Homo sapiens: one gene and its partners. The protein of the gene in region 3 interacts with the protein of the main gene of each other region in a pairwise test. Each region holds a gene or a part of one and is shown on either strand. Other genes may lie near its edges.

Region 1 (3,500 bases), on a different chromosome or scaffold from region 3:
TTCAACCAAACTCAGGTGCAAAATATTAAAAAAAAAAAAAAGAAAGAAAGCATCTGTAGTGAACACATACAGGCTTTTCTCTTGTCATTATTCCCTAAACAATATAGTATAACAGATTGGGCCTGTGCTGCTGGGCTGACACCTGTGCTGCCGGCCTCCTCTGAAGGTGCATATCACTCTCCCAAGCTCAGGTCTGCGCATAACAACCCTGGGCTCACACCTCCCACATGTTGTGAATGCCTCCCAGCCCATCCGGGGAGGAGCTCACAGTCAGCAGGGAGTCCTTCCAGATCACCTGCGCGTCCCTCCTCTTCCTTCTTGCCTGGGACCATCAGTCTCCTCGCCCTCTGCTAGCTGACTCGCCATGAGGCTGTCACTTGGCTTTCCTCCTGGCATGTAAACTCCCCAGGGACAGGGCCTGTGGCTGGTCATCTTTGTCACCCTAACCCACACACAGCCCACAGAAGTATCCAGTAAACCATACTGATCAAATCCCAGACTGACTGGTAGATTGGGCCCCTCTGACATGCAAGAGGCAGCCCAAAAGGAGCAGGCGCTCAGCTGCCGCGTGGAACCCCATGCAGAGCCCCAGCTGCCTGGGAGGAGGGCCCAGTACCTTGATGGTTGCCAGACTCAGGAGGCTGCAGGATTTGGGAAGCAGGGAAGTGAGGTGATTCGTGTGGACGATCAGCACCTGTGTGGAGAGATGTGCGGCCATGCTGGGCTGAGGAAGAGCAGCAGGCAGGGCAGGCTAAGGGCGTGGGAGCCAGCCCAGCGCCGTGCCACGCCCCACCATCTTGCTCTCCCAGACACCACCACGGGGATGCGGGTCAGTATCATGAACTCTCCCAATGGGGAATCTAATGCCCTTCCTTAAAACCTGGATCTTCAAGGGTGAAAGAGACCTTAGAGGTCTACATCTTCCTTCCATCTGAGAAGGGATCCCCCTGCAGCCATCCTGATCATAACCTTCCCAGCACCAGCGTCTTCACGTGGAAAATAGAGAATAATAAAGTGCTTGCCTCCCAGGGCTGCCATGATGTTAAATAAAAGCTCATGCGCAAAACTTCCAGGGCTGGCAGAGGGGCCAGGGCTCAGTCCAGGTCATCTACTGCTATTTTTCCTTTTCTTTTTTTTTTTTTTTGAGACCAACTCTTGCTCTGTCGCCCAAGCTGGAGTGCAGTGGTGTGATCTCAGCTCACTGCAACCTCCGCCTCCCAGGTTCAAGCAATTCTCCTGTCTCGCCCTCCCGAGTAGCTGGGACTACAGGCGCATGCCACCACACCCAGCTGATTTTTTTTTTATTTTTGGTAGAGACCGGGTTTCACCATGGTAGCCAGGATGGTCTTGATCTCCTGACCTCGTGATCTGCCCACCTCGGCCTCCCGAAGTGCTGGGATTACAGGCATGAGCCACCGCACCCGGCCAATCTACTGCATTTTTCTTAGGCATTGACTGCGGCCCAACACTTCCAGCACAGACTGGGCGTGGTGGCTCACACCTGTAATCCCAGCACTTTGGCAGGCTAAGGCAGGTGGATCACTTGAGGTCAGGAGTTCGAGACCAGCCTGGCCAACATGGCAAAACCTCATCTCTAAAAATACAAAAATTAGTTGGGCATGGTGGTGGGCGCCTATAATCCCAGCTACTCAGGAGGCTGAGGCAGGAGAATTGCTTGAACCCAGGAGGCGGAGGTTTCAGTGAGCTGAGATTGCACCACTGCACTCCAGCCTGGGTGACAGAGCAGAGCGTCCGTCTTCAAAAAAAAAAAAAAACAAACAAAACTTCCAGCGCCAAGGAGCTCACTACTCTGTTGGCAGGGAACACTTTTTTTTTTTTTTTTTTTTGCATATTCTCATTTAGATACTTCACTTAGAGCGCTTCTACCCATCTGCATTCAAAGCTGCAATGCTCTGCTGAAAAATCATTCACTCCCCTCTGAATCTCCCCTGGGTGACCAGAATAAAAGGCGTGAGTTTCTATTATTACTAACACCGGGGTTCATAAGCCTTTACTACGTGGTAGGCATGTACACTCAGTATATTTCTATCTCTATCTAGCTATCTACCACTCATTTAATTCTCACAATACCTCAGGAAGGAGAACTATGAATGTCTTCATTTCACAGGGGAAGAAACTGAGAAGTAAGAGTTTAAGGAAGTTGCCCAAGTCATGAAGCCAGTGAGGGCAGAGTTAGAATGTGACACAGGAAGGTCCAACCCCAAAGCCTACTCTCCTATCTGTGAAAACACCTGCTGCAGGCCAAGAGCATAAGAAGCAGAGAGAAAGGAGGTGTCTACGCCGGGAAGACAGCTCCTCAAAGTCCCTTGTGGGTTCAAACAAGCAGACATGCAACAAGAAAGTCTCTGAAGATGAAGCTCCATCTTACCTTCTTCTGCAGAACTTTGCATGTTGCAAAAGCTCCAAATGGAATCTAAGATAAGATAAAGAAGAGTAAGTGTCTCCCCTCCTGCCAGTTTTTAGCTTGTTCTCTGAGTGGCATTCACGTGAGGAAGAGACAGGCAGGAGGTGAACAAGGGCAAAACGCCACAGCAGGTGGCAGTGCTGAGCCCAGGGGCAAGGCTGGCAAGCAGTGGTGTTGGGGATGTGGCCAGCCCTTCCCTCGGTCAGCTGGCAGGAGACTGCCCTGCCCCACCCACCCTGTCCCCATTGTGAACCCCTTCAGGGGCTGGAGAATGCCAGGCCCTTCCAGCAATGTAGGAGTCTATGGGTACATTTTCTACCTAGACTCCTTGACTCTTGGAGACTACGTTATATTGAGGCCAAAGGATCATCTTCAATTATTTTGGACGAGAACAAAATCTAAGGAAACATCTCGTGACTAGAGCTTCTGGCCTTTCTAAAGCCCCAGTCCACCTCTGTCTTTCCTAGGGACACAAGATCCAAGAAAACGGGACAGATCCAATTCACAGCCCAACACTATCCTCAGTTTACCTCTGAGAGCTCACATTTAGAGATGTCGAGAATGTCATCTGCCCCAGCTTCTTTTGCCTAAGGATAAAAAGAATTTTTAAAAAGTATTAAGACAAAACACCTTTGCAGAGTGGACAAGCCAGGCAAAGAACATAAATGTAAGCAGCTGCAAAGGACCATAGACACTATCTGGTTCCACTGGTCCATTTGGCAGGTGAACCAATGACCCCTGCTTTCCCAGAGCTTGAGGCCCAGAGGGATGAGGAACTGAAAAGCAATGACAGTGCGCTCAGTCTACAGGGGAGAAGCACCCTTGGCAGGGGGCCTCATCTGTTGGGTCTAAGTCAAATATTTCTTCTGTGGGTGGGGGAGGCAGATGGGAAGGAGCACGGCTTGTTGGGGGCAGTGCGGAGGCCTACTCCATGGGGACCGAGGAGGAGATGGGATAGAGTTAGAGGAAACCCACTTTCCCTCACCAAACACATCTGGTACTCCAGGCGTTTCCGAGCCTCCTCACTGGGTTTCCGCTTCCGGAAGAAGAGCGGCATCCTTCCCTTTTCCCAGAG
Region 2 (3,500 bases), on a different chromosome or scaffold from region 3:
TAGAGTGCAGTGGCAAAATCACAGTTCACTGCAGCTTTGACCTCATGGGCTCAGGTGATACTTCCACCTCAGCCTCCTGAGTAGGTGGGGCTACAGGCCCATACTACCATGCCTGGCTAATTTTTTGATTTTGTAGAGAAAGAGCTTTGTCATATCGCCTAGGCTGGTCTCCAACTCCTGGACTCAAGTGATCTGCCCACTTCAGTCTCCCAAAGAACTGGAATATTTATAATTTTTGAAAAGGTTAAGTTTCTTAAGGTGTAGATCTAATTAGCTCACAATTCTGTCCAAATGTTTTTGTTTAATATATACTTACTTAAAAAGATTGTCCATCAGGTATCTATAGTTAGGCTGACTACTTTCAGGCATGAAACAGACAGCAAACACAACAATGGCATTTAATCCATCCCCATAATATCCTAAAAAAGAAACCAAAGACAGTATCACCAGCACGATTTTACTCTTAGGCATTTTTAGAAGACATCTGTATGATTAGTAAATTATAAATAAGAGTTTACTTTTCACAGATTTCTGTATTAAATGTATGTTTTGTAAATCTTATATGGTCTTATATAGAATTTTAATGTCTTCTTCCCAAAAAGAGAACAGTAAAATTTAAAGAGGACGGTGGACAGAAAAAACAAAAAAACCCAAGACCACTTAAATTCGCATATTTAAAAAGCCAGCCCTATTTTAGCAGGTAGACAAATATAGTGATATAACCCAATACAATACAGACACAATACAATAACTGCAATGTATTTTTATTTATTTCTATGATGCTTATGGTTAAAGTGGGTGCTTTTTTTTTTTTTTTAGATGGAGTCTCGTTCTGTCGTCCAGGCTGGAGGGCAGTGGCACAATCTCGGCTCACTGCAACCTCCGCCTCCTGGCTTCACGCGATTCTCCTGCCTCCCGAGTAGCTGGGATTATAAGCGCACACCACCGTGCCCGGCTAATTTTTTGTGTATTTTTAGTAGAGATGGGGTTTCACTAAGTTGGCCAGACTGGTCTCGAACTCCTGACCTCGTGATCTGCCTGCCTCAGCCTCCCACAGTGCTGGGATTACAGGCGTGAGCCACCGTGCCCGGCAAAGTGGGTGCTTTTTTAAATTTTTTTTTAGAGGATAGCATCTTGCTCCATTGCCCAGGATGGAGTGCAGTGGCGCAATCACAGCTCATGCAGCCTTGAACTTCTGGGCTCAAGGGATCTTCCCACCTCATAGCCTCCAGAGGAGCTGGGGATACAGCGCACACAAACATGCCTGGTTAACCTTTATAAAATTTTTTTTGTAGAGATAGGGTTTCACTGTGTTGCTCAGACTGGTCGTGAACTCCTGGCCTTAAGCAATCCTCCTCCTTTGGCCTCCCAAAGCACTGGGCATGAGCCACATCGCCAGAGCCATAAGTGGGTGATTTTTAAAAGGTAAGTTTATATTTAAAAATGCTAGCATTTTGTAGAAATTAGGACATTAAAACTAAATTAGGCCGGGCGAGGTGGCTCATGCTTGTAATTCCAGCACTTCGGGAGGCTGAGGTGGGCAGATCACTTAAGGCCAGGAATTTTGAGACCAGCCTGGCCAACATGGCGAAACCCCATCTCTACTAAAGATATAAACAATTAGCTGGGTGTGGTGGTGTGCACCTGTAGTCCCAGCTACTCAGGAGGCTGAGGCAGGACAATCATTCAAACCTGGGAGGCGGAGGTTGCAGTGAGTCGAGACTGCACCACTGCACTCCAGCCTGGGCAACAGAGCAAGACTTGGGTCTCAAAAAAAAAACAAAAACAAAAACAAAAAAACAAACTAAATTACATCTCTGACATAATTTTCAGTAATGGAAAACAGCGCTAAAATATGTATGTTTCAACAGCAGTCTTTAGATATTAAGCCAATATTTAGTAGCAAATACTTCTGCTTTAACCTTCATTTCTATTGCTTACAAATTTGCACATGAAAAGATTTGAACATTTCAAGAACATCAGAATCTTCACTACCTTTCTTAATCACTCAGTCACAAAATATATTAAGTGTGGTAATGCAATAAAATAAGGTGGTCTTATTTTCCCCTATAAAAAAAGTGCTATTTCTGAAAGATAAGAGATTTAAGCCATAAATCAGGTCTTATAATTTGATTCCTGTGAACTAGCTGAATAATGTATGTCTGTGGACTTCCTGATGCAGATTACGCCATTTTCTTCATCTGAGTACGATTAAATTAGGCAGAAGAATGCAACTACAAATATTCATGTGATTTGCTTTCAGATGAATGAAGACTGTAGAAATAAGCAGGGGAATGCATCTGGCAGAGAGTAAATCAAGTGGAAATGACCCTGAAAAAAAATCAATCTGCTTGACCCATATGCCCTCCGTCCTGTGTTAGGAGGATTTAAGGTAGTATGACATGCTCTACAGTGAGTTGTGTTCTGACTTACCACTAACATTCTAGCACTATTTACAATGTGCCTAGGTTAACTTCTATATATGGTACTGTTAGATTGAAAGGATTTATAACTTAAACTTTTATGGCTTTTCCTATTTCTTAAGGGCAGGGACTTAAGCCTTGTATTTTTGTATATCCCATAAGTATGGAAAGTGGGTGCTGTATAGAAGTGTGGAGTGAACTAGTTCTCTATTAAAAAATAATTTGGCCTGGGCACTGTGGCTCATGCCTGTAATCCCAGCACTTTGGGAGGCTGAGGCGGGCAGATCACAAGGTCAGGAGTTCGAGACCAGCCTGGCCAATATGGTGAAACCCCGTCTCTACTAAAAATACAAAAATTAGCCAGGCGTGGTGGCGTGCACCTGTAGTCCCACCTACTTGGGAGGCTGAGGCTGGCGTATCGCTTGAGCCTGGGAGGCAGAGGTTGCAGTGAGCCGAGATTGCGCCACTGCACTCCAGCCTGGGTGACAGAATGAGACTCCATCTCAAAAAAAAAAAAAAGAAAAAAAAATTTGTTCACGGTTTTAAGGCAAATTAAGAGTTAAGGTTAAAAAGTCCAAGTTTTAGGGCCGGGCACGGTGGCTCATGCCTGTAATCCCAGCACTTCAGGAGGCTGGGGTGAGCAAATCACGAGGTCAGGTGATCGAGACCATCCTGGCTAACATGGTGAAACCCTTTCTCTACTAAAAATACAAAAAATTAGCTGGGCATGGTGGCGTGCACCTGTAATCCCAGCTACTCGGGAGACTGAGGCAGGAGAATCCCTTGAACCGAGGAGGCAGAGGTTGCAGTGAGCTGTCACGCCACTGCACTCCAGCCTGGGTGACAGAGCAAGACTCTGTCTCAAAACAAAACAAAACAAAAAGAGTCCAAGTTTTACTTATATCCATAAATGACTTCTACAAGAATGTTCAAAGCAGTTTTGTTTATAACAGCCCAAGCTGGAAACAACTCACATGCACATAAAAAAAAACGGATAAGCAAATTATGGTTTATCCAAGCAATGGAAAACTACTCAGCAATAAGAAGGAATGTACTGTGGATACGTGCAACAACATG
Region 3 (5,406 bases):
TCAGGAGATCGAGACCATCCTGGCTAACATGGCGTTTCACTTTTTAAAAGCTTAAGCTTTATGGAATGAGGGAGCACGGTGGACTCTGACAGGAACCTTTTCAAATCAATGCTGAGGCTGTATTTCTTAGCCGTCCACAAACTAGTCCATAGGTAAAGAGCATACAAAACAGACGCCGAGGTGATCAGTGATTCCAAAGGCTGACGCTCAGCAGCGCCACCTCCATGCCAGCCAACTAGGCTACGGGATGGAGGGGCGGTCTGTGAAACACCAGCCATCCCGTGAAAGCTCAGCTTGCCACTGTCATGTAACAGGGTGGGTGGTGGCACAGCAGAGGCTCACACTTGTCACCTTCAGCCTCTAGAAGCTCCCCGTGGGGCACGAAGGCTGGGGACAGAGTGTCCTGAGGTTTTGTTACAAGGCTAGACTTTAAAATACCTTTCAAAGTTTCATCCCGCCTCATGTCGCAGGACTGCTGTGTTTGTGAAAGCGCGTTTGTTTCCACAAGACAAGCTCCGTGTAGTCGCCAGCGGGTGCCTGGCCCAGGAGCTGCCCTGTGGAGCCAGCGTTGTCCCCGAGCTGCTCGCCTGTGGCCGTGGCTCCTTTTCTGAGGCTCCTGACTCCATTCTTGCAGATTCTGGTGGATCAGGAGCTTACATTCTAAATGCTACATAGAGGTGTTGAAGAAAATTTCATAGGTTCTGTAATAGTGGATGGGATTAAAAGAAAAAATGTTAAATTATATATATATATATGGCTGGGTGCGGTGGTTCATGCCAGTAATCCTATAATCTTAGCACTTTGGGAGGCTGAGGCGGGAGGATCACTTGAGCCCAGTTCAAGAACAGCTTGGGCAACACAGCGAGTCCCTGTGTCTAGCAAAAAAAACCATGTGTATATATATATATATGTGTGTGTGTGTATATATATATATATATATATACATACATATATATACATATATAATTTGATGGGTTGTGAGAAGCCAACCCCCCCCAAAAAAAGGGGGGTGTAGAGCAGCTTCCCCTGACAGGTGCCGTGGCTGCCCCCGTAGTGGGCTATGTCTGTGCACAGGCGACAGGGAGGAGGGCTCCGGAGCTTCCCTTGTGGTGGGGGTGCCTTCTCCCTGTGAGGATGCTGAGCAGAGTTTGGAACCCAGACAGTTTCCCTTAGTGACAGTTATCTGGAAAGGAAAAAGGGCATTTAGAAGGAATAAACATAGGGCTGAATATGGAGTTGAATTTTAACCTCTTCAGACTGATGGGTGCAGACGAGGTTGTGTGGGGCCTCTGTGGAGCCTGCTGTGGCTTCCAGCCATGGGACTTTAGGGCCGAGGTGGCCTCTGCAGCACTGTGGCTGTGGGAGCACTGTGTGTTGGGGTAAGAGAAGCCAGGGGGCCTCCCTGAAGCCAGCTCATAAAGGAAGGTTCGTGTTTCAGAGGGAGGCGGCAAGGGAATCTGAGTACCTGAGTCCCCGATGTTTGAACCCTTCCACCCAATAGAAGTGCGGTGATTTCAGCCATTTCCCATCTGGCGGTCTGAATTTTTCCCTTCAGAGGAGAGAAGTGGTGGGCCCAGGCATCCCTCCTCCTGTGTGTGGTCGTTCTGGTGAGAGGAACCCCACGCGAGAGTCAGCACCTGTTTCTTCAGAGTTGCTGTCAAAATAATCACTGCGCCCCCGCCCCCCGCCCCCCCCCACAGCAGCCGTGTGTGCAGCGCCCGTCCCCAGCAACCATGGCATGGGAGCGTCTGGATCTGTGGGCGGACAGCATATCTCTGGGTAGTTGGTGCAGCTGTGGCAGAAATCAGGCCCCTGGGGAAGTCCTGTGACATGGATGCTTCCCTGAAGCAGCAGCAGTGTGTGGCTCAGGGGTCCTCAGAGGCCGGTGGTGCCCGCGGGTGGCACGGGGCACTCTCATGGGCAGCACTTGGTCTTGTGTTTACAGTATTGGAGGGATTCACATCGTTGTTTTCTGGATTAAGCTGCTAGGAGTATCATGTACTTAGAAATTCAGTGTTTATAGTAAGATGTATTAAACATTGCTAATGATGTATCGTTACAATGTATAACAGGTTTTCCATTGTCATAACTGTATGGAATTTTCTTGGAGGATGTCATTAGCTTCTGTTTGCACTGACTTGTGAGCTGTGTGTACGCTGTGGTCAGATTTCTGAATGCTGTAGAGCACTTACCAGCTCTGACCGTGTCTTGCTGGGGCCAGCAGGCTGCGTGTGCAGCGGGGCCAGCTGTCTCAGGGCTGATATGTAGACGTGTATTCTGTTTACAATTAGTTCCCCAACTCTGTGGGGAAGAACTTAAGCGGTTTTAGTGTTTTATAATATGGTGAGGCAATGAGGGTCAGGGCGCGTGGTCCCTGAGGGAGGGTCTTCAGGGCAAGACCCATGGCCCTGGCCTGGAACTGTGCTCCCCAGGGCGTGGTGCCTCCCTAAGGGGATGGTCAGTGTTCTGGGACTGACTGCCAGGCCAGCCCGTCTGCAGACTCCTGTGGTGGGAGTTCCCTGGGACGGGAAGCCCCTCGGCCCCTTCCCTCCAGGGGCAGGAACTGAGCCAGCATGGGCGGGGCCGGCCGAGCTTCCAGGCGTGTTTTCTCTGTTAAATGTACCTCTGTCTTTAAGCTGTCTCATTTTCTAATCGCTGGCATGTCTTGCCTAGAAAAGCATTTGGAATTGCTTATGTTCAATTACAGAAATAAAATGTCTTACTTGCCATTGTAGAATTCCTGCACTTTTGCAGAAAGGCTGTTTTGTAAAAATCCAACCCCAAAATAACTTTTTCCCATGTTCATGCCAGTGATTCTTAACTTTAGGGTCATAGAGAGCCTTGATAACATGATGAAGGTTTAAACGGATTGTCCCACCCTGGAAAACGGCAAACAGAAAAATTCTGCACAGTATGGCCCCAGCCCTTACCTTTCCCCCAACCAGTGCCAGCCCCCCTTCCTCCCACTGTAGGAGCACCCACAGGCTCACCCTGGGCACATAAGGTGGGGGGTGACAATTTCTGCCTCTGGGTTGTGGGAGGAGTCAAGCTACTTAACGGTTCTGGGCCTGAATTTCCCTACCTGCAAGTGGAGATGTAACAGTACCTATCCCTAGGAGTTGTGAGGAGAACATACTTCAATGTGTATAAATTACTCAGAGCAGTGCCTGGCAGACAGCAAGAAGCAGGTCCTGGAACTGCATCCATTGAACATTTATTTGTCAAAGGCCTGGTCTGTGCCAGGCAGCATGTGGAGGCACTGAGTGGGGGGTGGAGGGGGTTGTACGGTGGGAATCAAGGGGGTCACCACTGTGCCCATGGGGAGGCCACGCCACTCTGCCTGCTGGGTGGATATTTCAGCCTGTGCAGCCAGATGTGTTCCCAGGAGGCTCTGCTTTCCAGCCAGATGTAAGGCCTGGCCACAGTGTGGGACTGGGTCTGCACAGTGTGGGACTGCAGGACAGGGTCCTGCAGGTGGCCCTGCCAGGAGTCCTGCCATATCCCTACCAGAATACCACCCAGCCAGGCCAGGGCTGAGCTGGACGCCCAGACCCCCAGGGCCAGGATACACCGGGACCCTCCTTCCTCTCAACCTCGGATCCTCTTTGCCCAGAACTGTGTTCCCAGGTGGCTGACGAGCCTGTCACGTGCCAGCCCTGCGCTGCCTGCGCTCCTCTGACCGGCTGTGGTGCTGGCACAGGCCACACTACTAGAGACAAGGCAGTCCCCCCACCCCCAGGCTCTCCTGGACCCTGACACTGGAGGTTGGTGGGATATGCTTTCTCCACCTTGTACCACACTGAAGTTTTGTGGGGCACAGTGTGTGCCGAGGTGGGGCCCCCGGGAGCCAAGGACCCAGAGGTGGGTGAGGAGGAGCCGCCTGCCTGCAGCCCCACTGTGGCCTGAGTGGTGGGGGAGTAAGGACTGCCCTGTGTGCAGGAGGGGAGACCCTCGTGGGCACGGTCCCAAGGCTGAGGGGGTCTGAGGCCCCAGCCCAGGGGGCAGGCCTCAGACGCAACCCCAGTTGGGCTTCCATGTGGAGAGAAGAAGCAGGCGGCTCCCAGGGAGTCACTGTAGGACACCCCAGGCTCCAGCCCTGAGAATCACCTCTCCCCAAGGGCCAGCTCAGCAGTGGGGACCAGGTACCCAGCAAGCGGGCCTGTCCCCAGACCCAGGGAGAGGCAGAACATCCCCCCAGCTCAGATGGGGGTCAGTCTGTGGCCACCATCTTCGGATGAGAAAGTGGAGCCGCTGCCCTGGAAGAGCTGTGTCTGAACCAGGCTCCCAGCTGTGCCACGGCCCAGGCAGACGCGTTTTAAAGGCCCGAGCCCCGTGTGTCGGGGCTTCTCAGGCAGGGCTGTTGTGCAGCCGCCACCGTGTCAGTGGGACTGGGTCCCAGGTGTCCCTCGCACCCCTTCGGCACTGATCGTGTAGGAACAGGAGGAGGGGGGCAGGTGGGGGGCAGAGAGCACCCGCAGGGTCCGGGCTGGGCAGCCGAGGGCAGCCTCTTCCTCGCGGAGCCGGTCAGCCAGCAGTCTCACCAGGAGCTGGTTAGCCCAGGTTATGCCAAGGGCTGGGGAAACACGTTCGTCCCAGAACCTGAGAAACAGGAAGCAGGCAAGCTGGCGCTCAGGCTTGGTGGCCCCGCCCACTTCGGCCCAGCTGTGCCCCTGGCACCTGCACAGAGGTGCACACACCACATGGCTGCACTCACCCCAGCGGCCCGTGTGCTGCGCCCTGCTCCTCCATGGCCTCTGTCACCTGGAAGAGCACAGTCCAGGTCAGCTGCAACGGCTGAGGGTCTTCTCGATGGTTAGGCACAGGCTGCTACCCGCAGGAGCCGGAGGCCACCTCACTGCCACCCGCCCCACCTCCAGACCGGCTCTGCTTCCGCATCCTGGCTAAAAATACGAGCTCAGGGGTGCAACCCTGCCTTGGTGCTCACCTGGTTGATGCACAGCACAGGGCTCTGGAAGGCACTGCTCAGCTCACGCAGCGTGGCCCCCAGGGACTGCAGATGCCTGGCCCTGGGGGCGGAGGCCTGGCTGTCAAATTCACAGCGGAATGGGGCTGCCACCGAGTCGATGACCACCAGGCGAGCCATGCCCCGAGACAGCAGTACGGGGACCTTCTTATTCACACACTCCAACAAGGTGTCCTGTGGGGACAGCTGTCATTGTCTATGCTGGTCAGCAAGTCCCCGCCCCAGGTGACCAGACCCCGTTTGGACTGTCACTCGACCGTCTGAAAACCTTCCTACCCACCTGGGGCTCACAGTGCCCATACTCTGTAGTCCCCATACTCTGAGCCCAATTCTGTATTTTTCTCAAAGAGGCCCCAACTATAGAAGCTTCAGGCTCACACAACTGGTTCCCTTGGCCCCATGTCCTTCCTCTGGCCCCCCCA
Region 4 (3,393 bases), on a different chromosome or scaffold from region 3:
ACCCAAAATGTTAAATAGCCTGTATCCTTGAAAAGCGGTCAACCTACAGATGCAGGTATAGAAAGAATTCTAAAACTTTTTTTTTTTTTTTGAGACGGAGTTTCGCTCCTGTTGCCCAGGCTGGAGTGCAATGGCGCAATCTCGGCTCACCGTAACCTCCACCTCCCGGGTTCACGCGATTCTCCTGCCTCAGCCTCCCGAGTAGCTGGGATTACAGGCGTCTGCCACCACGCCCAGCTAATTTTCGTATTTTTAATAGAGACAGGCTCTTGCCATGTTGGCCAGGCTGGTCTTGAACTCCTGACCTCGGGTGATCCACCCACCTTGGCCTCCCAAAGTGCTGGGATTACACACGTGTGCCACTGTGCCCGGCCTCTGAAACATTTTTAAATGAAAAACCGTTGTCACAGAGTTTGGTGTGAGTGTCCACTTTTAGAGGGGTGAAGCTGTTGCCTGCCTTCTCTCACTCCTTCCCTCAAAACAAACGCACAACTCAGAAATAAGTTGTAAAAAAAATTTTGTTATTTATAAATCAATTACACAATAAAATAATTATTTTTAAAAGTCACAAATACAATCGTTGTATAAAGTCATTTTGGCATCAAGTATCTCTTAAATATGTTGCAAACTATTTTCCAAAGAGATGTGGTCCAAACCCTCTGAAGGCTTTATAATTTTGTATTAGATAACAAGTGAACAAAACTGACAATAAATACTCCAACAATTATTTTTTAAAATACTAAGTGGCAAATGCTATTCTAAGTGGCAAAACAATCTATTACTCAGACTACCTGAAAATTTCACTGAAGTCATCAAAAGTTATACAAAATTTGTATTTACATGTTTAAAATCCTGATTGCATTTTTCTTTAATAATAATACATACAAAAACTCAGAGGGTTAATAAAGAAATAATTCAAAGTCCTAATAAGTCAACAAACAGATTTCATTATAAGCTGAACATAAAAGAGACACCATTGTTTGCTTCTCTTTTCAAAAATTATCACGGCACTTTGTCAAATGGAAGCAGCATTCAGAACAATGGTTCTCAAATCTCTGTGTGCATAAACACCATGCAGGTTTGTACCACACAGATTCCTGGGCCCTGTTCCCAGTCTGAGCTCTCATTATTGAATCTGAGGAATCTGCATTTTGAACAAGATTCACGACTATTTTATTTTATTTTATCACCCAAGCTGGAGTGCAGTGGTGCAATCTCGGCTCACTGCAACCTCTGCCTCCTGAGTTAAAGTGATACTCAATTCTTGTGCCTCAGCCTCCTGAGTAACTGGGATTACAAACGTGCACCACACACCTGGTTAACTTTTGTATTTTTAGTAGAGATGAGGTTTCGCCATGATGGCCAGGCTGGTCTCGAACTCCTGACCTCAAGTGATTGCCTGCCTCAGCCTCCCAAAGTGCTAGGATTACAGGCATGAGGCACCGCACCCAGCCAAGATCCATGATTTTGATGAAGTGGTACAAGAACCTCACTCACTGGACATTGAAATTCTACTGTCCAATCCCAACTCACTGCTGTTGATTGGAAACCTGATTCTGGCAGCTCATTTATCTTGGTTTCCTCATTTGTAAGGTCGTTCAGTTGGACTGATCATCTCTGAGGGCCTTGAAGCCCTAACAAGTCTATCATGATCCCAGATGTAAAATATATATATGTGTATATATATAATTTCAGCTGAGAAGTGAGTCTTCACACCAAGTCTACTTTTTGCAAGTTACTGGGTTTCTGTCTTCACCATCTTCTGAAAAGTCTGCTTCTGTTGGTTCAGTTTCTGGGGTCATCTGAGTAGAGAGATTCTGAAACAGACACTGATGTTAATTTGGGGGACTACTTTTCTCATGCAAACAGGGGAGCTCCTAGCAATCCTGAGAGGTGCTGCATCCACATGGTATGTGGTGAGACCTTTTTGATTAGGAAATAACAGACACGTCCTCATAACATTAAACAGGTTCCACATCCTACTGTGCAATTCCCATCTGAGGACCTGGAAAACTCAATAGGAGGTCTTAACAGTGGTTGAACTTGAAGAGTAAGAGCTGGATTTCCTGGAGTGTTTCTTTGAGGTGAGGGATACTTGCATCTGCTTTACAGTGCGGACACTTCGGCAAAGGAGAGCGTTCTTTGCATGATCCCTGAAATCATGTGAAACAAAGTAATAGACAAAGGGGTCGATGCAGCTGTTAAGGGTAGAGAGGCAGAGGGCTACAATGTACAGGGCATAGACATGGCTCTGGCCCTGGCTCTTAATCAGAAAATAATGCACCACAAGCAGAAGGTTACTAGGAGTGAAGCAGATCAGGTACATGGCCAGGACAGTGACAATGAGTTTGATGGCCCTCTTCCTTTTCTTCTCTGAGTTTTCATCCATGGCAGAAGATCGCAGCATTCTGATCATCAGCACATAGGCAGAGGCTGTGAGGAAGGCTGGGAACAGAAAGACCCCAATGGCCAGAGAGAGGAAGTAATTGAACATGTCTCCCACCAAGAGCTGCTCAGGCAAAACATCATGACAGGTCGTGATGTTCAGGGCAGGAATGAAGATGGTCTGCTTCACGACATACAAAGGAATGGTGACCAGCAGAATCAGCAGCCATATTGCCAGGGAGATGCCAATGGCAATGTTTGCCTTCTTCCTGGAGTGCCCCATGGGGTTCACGATGACCCAATACCTCTGCACACTGAGGCAGGTCATGAAGAGAATGGAACAGTACATGTTGCCATAGAAAAAGCCAATAAGCACATTACAAAGAGCTTCCCCATAAATCCAGTTGTTGCCATGTATGTGATAGGCAATCTTCAAGGGGAACCAGATGACAGAGAGGAGGTCAGCCAAGGCCAGATTGGCCATGTAAATCACAGCAGGGTGCTTCTTCTTAGTTCGGAAAAGAAAGACCCACAGGGCCATGCCGTTACTTGGCAAACCCACCACAAACACAATTGTGTAGACAATTGGAAGGAAGACAGTGGTCAGTTTTCCAGTGAGGACAGATGCAGAAAACTCATCCACAGAAAAGACTGTTTCAACTGTAACTCCTTTTCCAGTGACGTGGGATGTGCCATCAACCTTACCAATAAGGCTTCTTCCTTTAGAGGATCTACTGGTTCCTGTACAAGAAAGGAAGACAAGGGTCATTACAGAAATAAATGTTTCAGCAGTAACACTGGTTTGTTCAAATGAAAGTACATTCATTTATTCATTTTTTAATTTATGAGACAGGGTCTCGCTGTCACCCAGGCTGGAGCGTAGTGGAGCGATCATAATGCACCGCAGCCTCAAACTTTTGGGCTCAAGCAATCCTCCTAAACAGCCAGGCCACAGGCACACACCATCACACCCAGCTAATTTTTTACTTTTTGTAGAGATAGGATCTC

Evidence for each region. The genes of interacting proteins can lie anywhere in the genome.
Region 1: the proteins of KLC1 (region 3) and LRSAM1 interact in a two-hybrid assay, tested with the Homo sapiens proteins (one large-scale study listed by BioGRID and IntAct).
Region 2: the proteins of KLC1 (region 3) and BNIP2 interact in binary tests that used the Homo sapiens proteins (3 or more experiments, as listed by UniProt).
Region 4: the proteins of KLC1 (region 3) and F2RL1 interact in a two-hybrid assay, tested with the Homo sapiens proteins (one large-scale study listed by BioGRID and IntAct).

Annotation. Positions count from the first base shown.
Region 1 is NC_000009.12:127,454,510-127,458,009, reverse strand, and holds part of LRSAM1 (E3 ubiquitin-protein ligase LRSAM1), read right to left. Parts: 5' UTR 3,483-3,500; coding exon 3,411-3,482; intron 3,013-3,410; coding exon 2,956-3,012; intron 2,435-2,955; coding exon 2,390-2,434; intron 695-2,389; coding exon 617-694; intron 1-616.
Region 2 is NC_000015.10:59,672,321-59,675,820, forward strand, and holds part of BNIP2 (BCL2/adenovirus E1B 19 kDa protein-interacting protein 2), read right to left. Parts: intron 420-3,500; coding exon 317-419; intron 1-316.
Region 3 is NC_000014.9:103,694,419-103,699,824, forward strand, and holds part of KLC1 (kinesin light chain 1), read left to right. Parts: exon of another isoform or gene 1-2,737; intron 2,738-3,198; exon of another isoform or gene 3,199-4,379; coding exon of another isoform or gene 4,380-4,599; intron 4,600-4,714; coding exon of another isoform or gene 4,715-4,761; intron 4,762-4,945; coding exon of another isoform or gene 4,946-5,158; intron 5,159-5,406. Other genes in the region: DNA repair protein XRCC3, read right to left, coding at 4,380-4,599, 4,715-4,761, 4,946-5,158. UniProt on the Homo sapiens protein: Kinesin is a microtubule-associated force-producing protein that may play a role in organelle transport. The light chain may function in coupling of cargo to the heavy chain or in the modulation of its ATPase activity.
Region 4 is NC_000005.10:76,832,423-76,835,815, reverse strand, and holds the end of F2RL1 (proteinase-activated receptor 2 preproprotein), read right to left. Parts: intron 3,127-3,393; coding exon 2,015-3,126; 3' UTR 501-2,014; downstream 1-500. UniProt on the Homo sapiens protein: Receptor for trypsin and trypsin-like enzymes coupled to G proteins.